Regions from separate parts of the Homo sapiens genome. Here region 1 is linked to region 2. Evidence: fine-mapped expression QTL. A gene starts in region 2. The other region holds a variant in brackets. All regions are shown on one strand. Distances are from middle to middle.

The links. PIP is the estimated chance that this variant, and not a neighbour inherited with it, causes the effect.
Region 1: its variant is fine-mapped to the expression of BLOC1S1 in substantia nigra (GTEx, PIP 0.90).

Annotation. Positions count from the first base shown.
Region 1 is chr12:55,818,134-55,821,157 of GRCh38, reverse strand. ORMDL2 (ORMDL sphingolipid biosynthesis regulator 2) reads right to left here. Exons shown (of 4, transcript NM_014182.5): 2 at 1,985-2,159; 3 at 1,665-1,816; 4 at 1-898. The coding sequence starts at 2,158. The coding sequence ends at 763. It overlaps DNAJC14 (DnaJ heat shock protein family (Hsp40) member C14), which reads left to right. Exons shown (of 7, transcript NM_032364.6): 7 at 1-173. Among named protein-coding and RNA genes, the nearest start is that of ORMDL2, 1.6 kb to the right of the region's middle. The variant C/A (reference allele first, on the strand shown) is at 1,645.
Region 2 is chr12:55,714,487-55,716,986 of GRCh38, reverse strand. It overlaps BLOC1S1 (biogenesis of lysosomal organelles complex 1 subunit 1), which reads right to left and starts at 941. Exons shown (of 4, transcript NM_001487.4): 1 at 791-941; 2 at 1-54. The coding sequence starts at 935. BLOC1S1-RDH5 (BLOC1S1-RDH5 readthrough) reads right to left here and starts at 953. Exons shown (of 6, transcript NR_037658.1): 1 at 791-953; 2 at 1-54. It also overlaps a transcript of ITGA7 not described here. RefSeq lists enhancers at 237-476, 757-896.

The DNA of each region.
Region 1 (3,024 bases), 100 kb before region 2:
TAAAAAGTAGATTCATGCCCACTGCCCTTGGGTGAGGGGGAAGAATACGGGGGTTCCCAGAAGCCCCCATGTGATCCAAGGGTTTGTATTTTTTTTTTAAGTTTGTTCATATTTGTATGTACATGACTATTTAAAGCCAGGGGATTATCTTTCTATAAATGTATAACTGGCAACCTGTATCTTCCCTCTTTGTTGCCCATATAGCCGGAGCCCTTTTTCTCATTTGAGAATCTCTTCCCTACTAAGTGTTAAGCTTAGAGTGAAGGGCACCTCCTACTGGACCAAAGGAGAGGGGATTGGAGAATTGTTTTAAGTTTTATACATTAGGTCAGTATTCCATCTTCCCACCCCCAGCCTTATGAGGACAGCTCTCTACCCATCCTGATTAAACTGCAGCTATAGCTGAAAAAAATTATTGTAAGAAAAATACACAGCAAAACAGAGCTGGAAGGTGGTAAGTGTAAAAGATATGGAAAGATGTAATCACCAAAGAAGCTGCCCAAATGGCTTCCTGCTATGGAGGAGAGTGATTTGGCCCTTACCTCACCTGCCTTCCTGATTCAAAGAAACTTGCCACTAGCAGGACTGGGCCCAGGAGCCCCATTTGCCAATCTCTTCTCTTCTTGGGAGTCTGGGAAAGGTTGTATAGTTCTCAGGCTTTAAAGGTGTAGAAGACAGTATGGAGAATAAGAGAAGGATGTTTTATAGTCCTCTGTTTCAGTGCCTTCCCCATGCCCATGGAGCTGTCCCAAAACCCATCCCTCAGTATTTGTTGATGCCAAAGACACGAACCCCATGGAACTGGGGCAACTTCGGCAGCAGTACACTTAGCAATGAGGCTGTGTTGATGAGGAAGTGCGCAGCATCATACTTGGTATAGAAGCTGGCCAGGAGATAGCTGGGGAGAGAAAAAAATAGGGTGAGTGAGGTTGACCTTCTCTATCCATATTCTTTTTTTTTTTTAAGAGACAGTTCTCACCATGTTTCCCAGGTTGGAGTGCAGTGGCTATTCATAAGTGTGATACGTGCAGTACAACCTCAAACTCCTGGGCTCAAACAATCCTTCTGCCATAGCCTCCCAAGTAGCTGGGACTCCAGGCATGCACCACAGTGCCCTGCTCTTTCTCTTCTATTTTAAATGACCAGTTTTACTGTATATAGTTCTAGATTATCTAAAACTATTCCAGCTATATCAACAGCATTTACTTTGGGGTTCAGGAGATAGCACCCTTAACTGGAGACTGTAAGTCAGTATCTGTTAATTGTTAATGACATGGCAAATGACGGCTCAAGCTATTTCAGTCTGTATGACTGTTACAGTCCTCTTTGCTTCCACTCCCTACAGTGTTTTTGAAGATTAATATCAGTTCTGCCTTTATTTACTTCTTTTGGCAGTGTAAAATCATTTGGTTTTATTTGGCACTTATCTTTTCTCAGTCCCTTCATTTCCTTACTACCAAGGAGGCAGCAAGGAATGCTTGATTACAGTATTGACTGTAATCTACATTTTACTGCTCTCTGTAGGCTTAGAACTAGTATACCATAATATCTTCAAAGGGTTTTAGATGAGAAGTCTGCTTTTTAACAGCTTCCCTATGGGCCTTTCTACCTGGCTCTTGGAGCTCTTTCTAACCCAGCATATCT[C/A]ATTTCCCCCATAGACTCACAGCACAATAGGAGAGATGCTGAGGAACTTGCGGGAAGAGGTAAACTGGAGCCCATAGTCCATTTGCTCCCAGTGTGTCAGTAGCCGAGCCTTTCCTTGGTCAGGAGTCTCAAAGGGTGTCCCTTTCACCGTATGAAGGAAGACATACGTAGCCTGGGAACAGGGAAGGTGGCAGTGTGAGGGGCAGAAAGTAGTTTTTCAGTCAAAGAATTATGTTAAGATCCCAAAAGGAACACATAAATCCCCAAACAATTGGTGATTTTATTTTGCTTTTGGTTGGGAAACCCTGGGGTGGGTACAAGGGCGTGGTTTAGTGCTCACCAGGTTATGGATGACGTTGGTCAGGGTCCAGACAACAGGAATGCTGAAGAAGGGGATGCTGAGTAGAACCATATGCAGCAATCCTACCAAGATGATGTAGGCCAGCCAGATGCCTCGGCTATTCATCACTCGGGTGTTGGGGTTTACTTCGCTGTGTGCCACCCCCACATTCATCCTAGCCGTAATGGGGGATCAGGCAGGAGTCCAGCTCAGTTTTTTCTCAACCCCTCTTGAGCTATCTCCCAGTTGTCTCTCAGATAGCCCCAATCCCCTGAACTCTATTGGGAATGAAGAACTTACCCATCACGCAGAAAATAAAAACTGAAGACTTGGGGAAAACTTTAAAAGACAAGAAGAGTCCTCACTACATTTCAGAGACATAGTCATTATTGCTCTGATCTTTACACGTCAACTGTAACATGAAGGTGTATGTGTAGGCTTGGGGCACTCACTTCAGGGAGCAAGGGAAATAGGAGTATCTGACTTTGCTGAAGAAGTTAATAACCATGAAGAGGTCACGTACACCCAGAATTCCAGGCGAAAGTCATGGAATCATCAAAGAACCACTAAGAAGGGATGACAGAGTAAAGCTCACTCTGGTCCCCACTTTGTTCTCTGGGGCTTGTCCACCCTCTCTCTCACCTCCGTGGCATGTAAACAGTCTGCATCCCCATTACTTCTCTCAAGCGTGGGGCACGACAACAACTTGCCCACGGCTTCTGGACTGGGTTAGGAAGGGACCTGAGCTCAATACCTCGAAAGGTGGAGCCTTGGCTCTGACTCCAGGGGCAGCAGTGATTATCTGAACTCGGATCTTTAAAATTGTGGTAGCTCTAAAGCTGATGATGTCTGGTTAGGAAGCGGCTCTTGCCCGCCCCAGCCCCACCGCCAGTTCCTTAAGCCCGCCCCATGCCCCTCCCAGCTTCCTCCTCATGTTCATCGGTTTTTTCAGGGCTCCCTTCAGCGCTCCCCTCTCAGTATTTAGGTCACCACTCCCTCGGCGCCCCTTTCGCCTCCCACCATTTTTCCTCAGCAACCCT
Region 2 (2,500 bases):
CCAAAGCTTCTGTCAGGCAGGTCGCTGCAGTGATAGCCTCTCGCCTCCTCTTTTCTGGGGAGAGGGGGAAAAGGAATTGGAGGGGAGACTTGGTTTTTTGAGGGGTAGTGTTAAAGGTTCCCTACCCATCCATTACTATTCTGCTAGTTGCCGAAATTTCTTAACTAATCTCTGAATGCCGGAGCTGAAAAGGACCTTGCAAAACATAGCGCAACCTCTTTCATTTTAGAGATGAGGAAACTGGTACCCTGGGAGGGAAATGGACTCACTCAGGGACGCCAGGAAGTCAGCGGCAGCGCCCAGGACTCCTGACTCCCAGGCACTCTTTCTCCACTACTCGGCCGCAGAATCGGTAACTCCGAGATTTCCAGCCCGGACTCAGGAAACAAGTGCCCCACCTCCGTTCCGGTGGTTTCAGGCCTCCAAGAAGCCCATCTCTGGGGGGTTCCCCACACCCTCCTCCCTCCAGAGTCGCTCCTTCCCGCCGCCAGGACGAGAGGCTCCCAGGGCCAATAGGCAGGGCGCTCCGGGGCAGGGGCGGGGCTAAGGTGCGGCAGGTCGGGGATTGGGGGCGTTGCCGAGGGGACCGGAGTATTGCCCAAGGGACCGGAGCCAGTTGGCAAGGGAAAGGAGTTTCAAAAAAAGCCTCTCTGAAATTCCCTCTCCCCCATGCCCGTTGCCCGCTAGCTGGCGTCTTTCCCTGGATATGGTTAGTTACTCGAGATCCAGGCTCCGGGCTGAAGCTAGGCCGCGGCCGAAGAGAAAACGGCCGACAGGATATTTGGCTCACCCTGCAGCTCCTTGCGTTCATTCTGCTTGGCCTGGTGTTCTTTTAGGAGGCGGGACAGCATGGTCACGTCGGGCTGGGGGCTGGGTACGCCGGGCCCCCTCCGGCTCCGGAAGCTGGAACGCTCACCTCGGCTCCCCGGGGCCATGTCACGTGACCGCTGTGTCACGTGAGGTTGGGAACCGCCCTCTTGAGACCTTGGGTGAAGATCTTGGCGGGGAAGAGAGGTAGAGGGTTGCGGAGGGCAGGTGAAGTGTTCTTTATTGGGAGCTTAGTTTTTGGTGAGTGTTGGAAGAAGTATTTTCTAATACTTATATTGCCAAGCCAGTTTTTAACATTTCCTGTGGATCTCAGGCTTCGAGGGCTGGTGGTGTCAGGCCGTCTATCACCGTTTAATTGAGGGAGCAGAAGCTCCCTGGCCTCATTTAAATTATTCTCCTTCCCTCTCCTCACCTCCTGGCAGTGCTAGCTGGTTCTCAGTTGATTCCCAGTTCCTTCCCTCAAGGAGAGGATGCTTTCCTGTCTCTCCCAACCCTCTTTCTTCTCACTACCCCACTGAAGTCTCTCAGCTCTGGGTGATCATTGTAGAGAAGCATTTTAGGCACTTCAGACAGCCTCCTAGGGAGCTTGGCTAACTTGGCGGGCTGTGTGAATGTAGAATTTCATCTCTGTCCTTTTGTGGTCAGGAATGCGAACCCATTTCAGTGTTAGCAGAAGCGTAAGTGCTGTGCCAAAGTAAAAAGTAATTTATATAAGGCCTCTGTGAACTAAAAAGAAATGCTTCCGGGATTAACTCCAGCGAGAACAATTATAAACATCATGAGCATATTCTTGCTACTGGTACAATCTCTCTCGGTGCACCTTGCACTAACATGTTGGGTGACTTTGGGCAAGTTGCTCACCATTCTAGGTTATAGTTTTCTCTTTAGTAAAACTAGGAGAAGGGATTGGATTAAATCGGTGGTTCTCAACCCTGGCTAAGCATTAGAATCTAAACATTAGAATCACAGAAATCACAAGGCTTATAAAAATGCCGTGATTAGCCGGGTGCGGTGGCTCACGCCCGTAATCCCAGCACTTTGGGAGGCCGAGGCGGGCGGATCACGAGGTCAGGAGTTCGAGACCAGGCTGACCAACATGGTGAAACCTTGTATCTACTAAAAATACAAAATTTAGCCAGGCGTAGTGGCACAAGCCTGTAATCCCAGCTACTCAGGAGCCTGAGGCAGGAGAATCGCTTGAACCTGGGAGGCAGAGGTTGCAGTGAGCCGAGATCACGCCACTGAACTCCAGCCTGGGCGACAGAGTGGGACTCTGTCTCAAAAAAAAAAAAAAAAAAGCCTTGATTCCAGACTAATTAAATAGAATCTAAGGAGTGAAGACCAAACATCACTATATATATGTATGTATATATGTATGTATACGTATATATGTGTATATATGTATGTATACGTATATATGTGTATATATGTATGTATATGTATATATGTATATATAAAATTATTATTATTTTTGAGACAGAGTCTCGCTCTGTCGCCTAGGCTGGAGTGCAGTGGCATGATCTCAGCTGACTGCAACCTCCACCTCCCAGGTTCAAGCGATTCTCCTGCCTCAGCCTCCTGAGTAGCTGGGATTACAGGCATGTGCCACCACACCTGACTAATTTTTGTATTTTTTTTTTTGAGACGGAGTCTCGCTCTGTCGCCCAGGCTG